2 linked regions of the Homo sapiens genome follow. The protein of the gene in region 1 interacts with the protein of each later gene in a pairwise test. Each region holds a gene or a part of one and is shown on either strand. Other genes may lie near its edges.

Region 1 (3,816 bases):
GGAATTCAGAAATGCAAATGCTTAGAACCATGTTTTCCATCAGCATTTATGAAATCTTGCTTTTTAGAAACGGGCCAGATCATTCCAGTTTCTAAGTTTATCTTTCTCTACTGATGTTACTCAGCTGTAATGTTATTGACTGATAGGGAAGGCAGAGCATCTTGTAGTCTTTCGGCAAGAAAGGAGAAATATAATGGAATCCATGCCCAATGCTCTCAAATCTTGACATATTCCTAATTTCAGTATTTGGCCTGCCTTATTCGTAGAGCATCAAAAGCTTTTCAAAGCCTTTACACACACAGCCTTCCACCCCTCTCCCCCCAGACAAAAAATTATAGCCAGTTTAGCATTTACTCTTTACAAGGAACTTATTTTCTGAATCTGTCATTAAAAAGTACCTTAATAACTCTCTGTTCTACCACAGTATCCAACCATTCAATAAAAGCCTCCACAGTGGCATTCTTCTTAAGGAGATCCTTCAGTTCTTGGAACACAGTGATAGAGTCATCTACCCAGGAAAAAAAAAAAAAAGAAAGAAAAGAAAACAGAATATTGTACTCTACTTGGAATCCAAGAGAAAACCTAAAACTTGGAATCATCAATACTTTGATAGCATGAAAGGGAAAGACAGATAAATGTGTGAAAAGAATTAATATCATATCTTGAAAACAGTAACAAAAAAATCCTTAGTACTGTACTCTTCAATGGTGTGTGTGTGAGAGAGAGAGAGACAGGATCTTGCTTTGTTGCCCAGGCTGGAGTGCAATGACGTGATCATGGCTTACTGCAGCCTCAAACTCCTGGGCTCAAGTGACCCTCCTGCCTCAGCCTCCCAAGCAGTTGGGACTCCAGGCACGCACCAACAAGCCTGCCTAAATTAAAAAAAAAAAAAAATTATAGAGCAAGGTCTTGCTGTGTTGCCCAGGCTGGCCTTGAACTCCTGGGATCAAGCAATCTTCCCACCTCAGCCTCTTGAAGTGTGCCCGAAATTTTAATAAGTGTATATATCTTGGTATATATTGAAATATAGGTTTAAATCTTATATGTGTATTCACATACTAGGGAAGATTAAGTTGTTTATGTAGTTAAATATTCATTTTGAGTCTAGTGTTTTCATTAAACGGAACAGATTAGTTAAAAGTGAATGAATGAACCTAAGCTTGGTGATTTCCTGCTTTCCAAAATATCTTTTATCTTTAGTAAAAGTTAATTTCTTCTCAGCAGAATTGAGCCATTTACCTGAATAACGTTTTATCATGTAATATTTAAAAGGGCAGTTTAAGACTATCCTTTTATTAAAGGTTTTAAGGTTTACTGAATCTCAAAAGGTAATCCTATTTTATGTTAGGAAATAAAAAGTGGAGTTGAGATTGGGCCCCAGAGAGCAGTCCATAGTTTGTGCTCCAGTGTATAGGAGGCTGCAGGTTTTGTCTTTTCAAAGACAGAGGGAGGAAAAAATAGTGGCTGTTATCCCTTGAAATTCAAGCCTAGTTGTCTAGCCATGCATATTGGCTTGGTAAGCTCTCTCAGATGGTCCAAACCTGAGTAGAGAGTCTGCTTTGAAAAGCAGTATTGTGCTGAGATACCATTTTGATATTTATCACACACCACAGGATGACAAGACTATAAAACACATGTAAATTTCTATACATGTAATGTAAAACTGAAAGAAAACTTACAAAACTCAAAACAATTTGATTATTTTCAGATTATTTCCATTTCATTTATTTCTAGGTAATGAAATTACAGATGACTTTTATTTTCCTCAATATTTTCTATCTTTTCCATGGTGAGTAATTATAACTATTTTTTATTAGAAGATAAATTTTTTTAATTAAAAATATTTTTATAAACCAGGTTTTTTTTCAATCAGATGTGATTTTTCAGCCCAGAACACCTTTGACAATGTGGGGAAACATTTTTGGTTGTCTCAGCTTGGGGGAGGCTGCTACTGTCATCTAATGGGTAAAGGTCAAGGATGCTGCTAAACATCCTACAGCACACTGGACAGGCTCCTCCAACAGAGTTACCCAGCTCAAGATGTCAATTTTCTGAGCTTAGAAAACCTTGTTCTAAACAAAGAGAATGGACTTACGTTCAGTGTAGATACCAGATTCAGTGTCTGTGCTGCCTGAAATGGTAAGAAGGGCTTGAGAGCCAATGCTGTTCAAATCAACCCTTTCAATATCAGACACCATAGAATTAACGACATGCTGGTCAAAGAGAGCTGGTCTGGCAATCTGCATAGAGAAAGTAAAGAAGACACTACACTATATCATTTCTAATGTATCTAGAAGAAATTTTTAGCTATCAGAAAAATAGTTCCTTGAGATAAAAGTATCATAAATAACTTTTTTCTTATTTTAAAGACAAAAGCAGTAGCTGAGACTCATGATCATCTCTGTTAAAAGTCTGAAAATTATAGGAGATACACCTAATGTAAATGATGAGTTAATGGGTGCAACACACCAACAGGGCACATGTATACATATGTAACAAACCTGCACGATGTGCACATGTACCCTAAAACTTAAAGTATAATAAAAAATAGAAAAAGAAAATATAAATGGATTCTCTTTGTCCATGATCACAAAATAAGAATTTTTAAATGTTACATTTCCTATCTGAAATCATCTCAAGCTTGTCTTTTAAAATTTAGAAGGCAAGAAACCTTCATAAAGCAGATAATCATTTTGGGGAAAGAGAAATATATTTTAACAATATACAAATGCATCATTCTTAACTTATGAATTACTTTTGCTCTATTTAAAAGAGCCATGATTAGTCGGCAGTTTAAAATGTGTTGAGTTTGTGGTTTCACAATATTAAGTATCACACAGGCTTACTTCTCACAACCTTAATTTGTACCAATTAGATTCACATGGCAAATAAATGTTTAATTGCATTCAAGTTTTTTAAATTTCCAATCACAGAGAAGTTGCAAAGATAGTGCAGAATATTTCCATATACTCTCCATCCAGCTTCTTATCATCTTCTGTAACTATTGTATATTACCCAAATTATGAAATTAACATTGGTACAATACTATTAACTACAGACATAATTCAAATTTCACCAGCTTTCCCACTAATGTGCTTTTTCTATCATAGCATTCACTTCTGGGTCTCACGTTGCATTTAGTTGTTGTCTACTTAGCTCCCTTCAATCTATGAAAGTTCCTCAATCTGTCCTTCTCAGAAGATTCATTTTTTATATGGTGACTCAAATGCTCTCGACTTAGCAACCAACATACCTGGGCAAGATGTAAGAAAGATGTTTGTCGTTTCAGAGAAGATACAAATCTTCGCACAATAGGTATTTTCTTGTCAGTTAGAGCTTCTGGCAAGTTTTCCAAGGATGAAACAACCCACTGTTCCCAATTTTTAGCAAAATTTCTTATGTCTGCTAATAAGCTACAAAGAAGGCTATGTGTTAAATGCTTCATTGTTAAAAAATGCATTAAACAATCATATTTTAATTGAGGTATACTATTATTCTATGGTTTCATAAGCAGTACTTTTGAAGTCAGACAGCCTAGATCTGCCATTTATCATCTTTTCTTATGCTATATTTTTAAAATGTTTGTGGGTGCATAGGAGGTGTATATATTTATGGGGTACATGAGATGTTTTGTTATCATCTTGGTCAAAACACTCAAGCTCTTCAAACTCCACTTCAAGTACCCAATTCAGAGTACAGAATAGATATTTAAAGACTACAATTGATAATTAAAAGACATTATTGATCAGGCTAATACCAACTATCATATAGATGAAATAATCTGGAGGAAAAGGTAAATAAAAAGTAAAATTTGTT
Region 2 (3,816 bases), on another chromosome or scaffold:
ACGCAGGGCTGCAGAGGATGGTGGCTCAGCTCCTGCCCTGCTAGGGTTCCTGGTGCCCGAGCCTGAGCCGGGCCCAGCCGCACCTTGAGCATAGCCTGCTGGTCCTCACTGTACTCCACCTGGGCAGTGGCCAGGTTGAGCACGAACCGCTCCACGGTGTCCTTGTCGCTGTTGTACATGTAGGCATAGGGGCGCCGCACCACCACGAAGCGCCTGGCCCAGCCTGACGTGTGCGGCTCCAGGAAGTGCAGGTACCCCTTCTTGGAAACGATCGGGCTGAAGGCAGAGAGAGCTGCTCGCTGGGGCCCTCGGTGGGGGCAGCGACTGACTCGGGCACTCACCATCTACCACCCAGAGCTGGGACGCAGCAGTGCCAACCACCTCCCCAGCCAGAAAGTGGGTCGAGGCATCGAAGGGCACCTGGCAGAACCCCAACCCAGCAGGCCGGAGACCAGACCACCAAGCCAGCTCTGGGCCTCAGTTTCCCCACCATAAAATGGAAAAACTTAAAGAAATAAGCTAAAGTTGCTGAAGGCTGTCACACTGTACCCAGTGACCACGAGTTCCCCACCTGGGCCTTGGCTCTGACCCCACCCACTCCCCTGTGCTCTGTGCTGGTTCCCAGCCTAGGCATGTGGGTCACAGGGCCCTGCCTGACCTCCCAGCATGGAGCTGTCCCTCCATGTGGGTCAGGGGCAGCCTGCCTGAACCTCCAGTATGGGCATCAGGCAACCTGTCTGTCTCCCCAAGTATGAGGGTCCCTGTGCCCCCAGTATGGGGAGCAGGGTGGCCTGCCTGTCCCCTGTCAGCACAGAGCTGGTGGCGGTGCTTTCCAGGGAGGCCCCACACACCTGACTCGGATCTCCTGGATGTCAGGGACCAGCAGGCGCTGGGGCTCCTTGTCTGTCTCTGTTGCCCGGGCAGGGGAAGGGAGCTTCTTGGAGTCGGCCTCTGGCAGCAGCTCGGGCTCTGGGCTGGCTGGCCGGGAGCAGGGCTGCGGGGTCCTGGGAAGCAGAGGGAAGTGCTGCCCACTGCAGGCCTCCCTGGGCCTGGGGCCGTCTTCCCCCAGGCTTCACCCTCCTCAGAGCACCTCAGAAGGTGCAGTAGGGCACCTTCGCAGGGTCTCTCCAGCTGTGCCCACAGTGGGAGCTCCCGGGGCCCGTCCACCAGGATAGCCAAGCTTGTGCCCGATTCCAGGAAGTGCTGGGCTTGGTGGGCAGGGTCCCCCAGGAACCTCGGGGCCCAGCCAGGGAGCCTGTGCCCCACTCCACGCCCTTCTCCCAGTGGCTCTCCTGCCCCCACCTCCACCCTGTGAAAGCAAGTCCAGCATCTCTTCATCTCCACAACTAGACTGAAGGTGACACGAGGTTCCAAGGAGCCACTGGAGCAGAGGGTGCCGATGGCCTCCCGCATGGGCCCCCCACATGGGCCAGGCCCCACGCGACTCGACCTGGTGGTCAAGGAGGCCTGCAGAAGACAAGGCCAGCTGATGCCACCGTCTTTCTTATTTAAATGAAAATCTGGAACCCTTAAGGCGCTTAAAACAAGAGTGAAAAGCATCTGCCTGCTTATGAATTGTACATAAGGGGTTCACACGAGGTCTCTTCCAAATGCGGACCTGCAGGGGCCAGGTGTCCCCTCCACAATACTGACTCTAACGGCTCTCATGCCCTCTTTCGTAACCTTTTCTTTTTCCATTATTTTATAAGCACTGTCTCAGGAAAGGGGAGCTTTAGCTTATTTTCCACCCATTTCTGGTCTTCTTCAGGGAAGAGAACACACACACACTAGGATGGAGCTGGCGGGGCACAGGCACCCTCTGAGAGGGCTGCGGACTCCACTCCTCCAGGCCCTTCCCTCAGCCTGTGGCCACCCCAAGGCACTCGGCCATTGGGGCCCCCTGTTCTGTGCTCTCTGTGCCCGAGTCACGGCCATGGTCATGGGTCAGCCGTGGTGCCAGAAGCCACTCCGGGAGCCTGGAGCTCACTCACCTCAGGTCAGTGGCACCGTACCGCCCTTCAACCAGAGAGGGGCAAGTGGAGGAGGGGGTGAGAGTGGCCACCCCTAGAGGGGACATCGACGGGTCCCGGAGCAGGGTGACAGACATCTCGGAGAGCTGCGGAGGAGAGGCCTTTTTCAGGGGACACAGGGAAGGGGGGTCTCCGGCCTCTGTGGGAGCTGCTCCCTGTGCCTGCGCTTACCCCACACCTGCTGCTTAGGGCACCCCACCCCTCCTACCAGCAGCCTTGGCTCAAAGTTGGCCAGCTCAAGACCCCCGGCCCCCTCCAGCCCCTGTGGCCCCTGGCCGGCCCCTCCCATCACTTCAGGCTCTGGCCTGACCCAGGCAGCCACCCTGCCAATGCCTCGAGGAGTGGGCTGGGTAAGCTCTGCCCTGCCGCCTCCTGCCCATGCCAGCGTGAGGTGGCGCTGGGTGATGCCATGGGGACAAGGAAGGCCATGGGCCAGGGCTGGAGCTCCACGCATAATGCAGCACAGCAGCAGTTTCCCAGGCTACAGGGGTGGGGTCGGTCCCAGGAGGAGGAGGGACAGCCAAGTGGGAGCTTGACTGACTGGGCCAGAGGCCACAGGGTGATGGCCAGACAGGGTGGGGGCCAGGAAGACAGCAGAAGCCTGCAAGTGCATGGGTGCATCCAAGGCCACAGGACCCACCCGGCCCCTCACTCACATCCCCACCTCCCATGGACCCCAGGCCGACCCAGGGAAACCAGCCACTTAGGTATGAGGTGTCCCTCTGCACTGAGACGTGTTCCTAGGAAACTCTTAACTGCCTTTTCCCACTTGGAATGGGAGTTTTCCTCAGGGACCACTGCCTATGGGAGCCCGAGCCCTGCGGGGCAGCCTGGTGCAGCCCCTCTGCACCCACCTTGCTCTCGCTGGCACTGACGCAGACGTGGCTGTGTGTGTACTCTCTGTTGAATGTGTGCGTGAGCAGGCGCAAGCACTGTGGACAGAGCACACGCGTGGTCAGGGGCCAGGCCTCCCGGGACCCTGCTCAGACAGCCTTGCAGGCTCTTCTACCCACCCCTCCCCAGACACAGGTGGGTTCCGACGCCAGAGCACAGTGGGTCAAGGTGGGCAGCACCTCCACCCCGCCCAGGTCATCGGGTGAGCCCAGGAAGTCTCCCAGGGTCAGGCACCGGCTGAGGGCCTGGTGTGAGGGCCAGAGGCTGTGCTGCCTCCAGTGCAGGAGGCGCAGGAAGCCTTCCCAGAGGCCCGTTCAGCCGCCAAAAGAGCCACTTGTGGGTGGAAGTGGTGAGCTCCCCATCAGCACAGGTATTCAAGAGAGTGATTCATCGCTTGGGAAGGGAGGCTGCAAAAGGCACCCAACTTTCAGTGCAGGTGGGGTGCAGTCAGTGGGCAAGGGGACCCTAGGGACCCCTCAAGCTCCTAGCTCCTGGTGGTGCTAACCAGAGCAGCCATGGGCAAGGCCGGGTTGCTGGAGTTGCCCAGAAATGACTCAGGGCCCTTGAGGGCCTGGGGCTACGGCTGTACTGCCCACCAGCTGGACCCACCTTGACGGCCAGCTCCCGCTGCCTCTCGTTGGGAGCCTCCAGGGGTGATGGGCGGCCCTCAGCCGAGAGCGGGGAGGAGGCGCTGGAGGAGCCATGGGACTCAGAGTCCTCGCTGAAGGCCGGGGACAGTGCCTCCGGGACAGGCCGCTGGGCGGTCTCCAGCTTCTCCCGCAGGAGCAGGTAGTGCCTAGTCTTCTCCACCTTCAGACAGGACACAAGGCCTTACCTGCTGCACCTCAGGGGTGACCTCCGGAGTTGTGCTCAGCCTCAGCAGCAGCATGAC

Evidence for each region.
Region 2: the proteins of RFX6 (region 1) and KIF1A interact in a two-hybrid assay, tested with the Homo sapiens proteins (one large-scale study listed by BioGRID and IntAct).

What each region holds. Positions count from the first base shown.
Region 1 is NC_000006.12:116,918,734-116,922,549, reverse strand, and holds part of RFX6 (DNA-binding protein RFX6), read right to left. Parts: intron 3,414-3,816; coding exon 3,254-3,413; intron 2,241-3,253; coding exon 2,096-2,240; intron 509-2,095; coding exon 399-508; intron 1-398. UniProt on the Homo sapiens protein: Transcription factor required to direct islet cell differentiation during endocrine pancreas development. Specifically required for the differentiation of 4 of the 5 islet cell types and for the production of insulin.
Region 2 is NC_000002.12:240,718,923-240,722,738, forward strand, and holds part of KIF1A (kinesin-like protein KIF1A), read right to left. Parts: intron 3,735-3,816; coding exon 3,534-3,734; intron 2,963-3,533; coding exon 2,885-2,962; intron 2,117-2,884; coding exon 1,992-2,116; intron 1,005-1,991; coding exon 852-1,004; intron 277-851; coding exon 84-276; intron 1-83.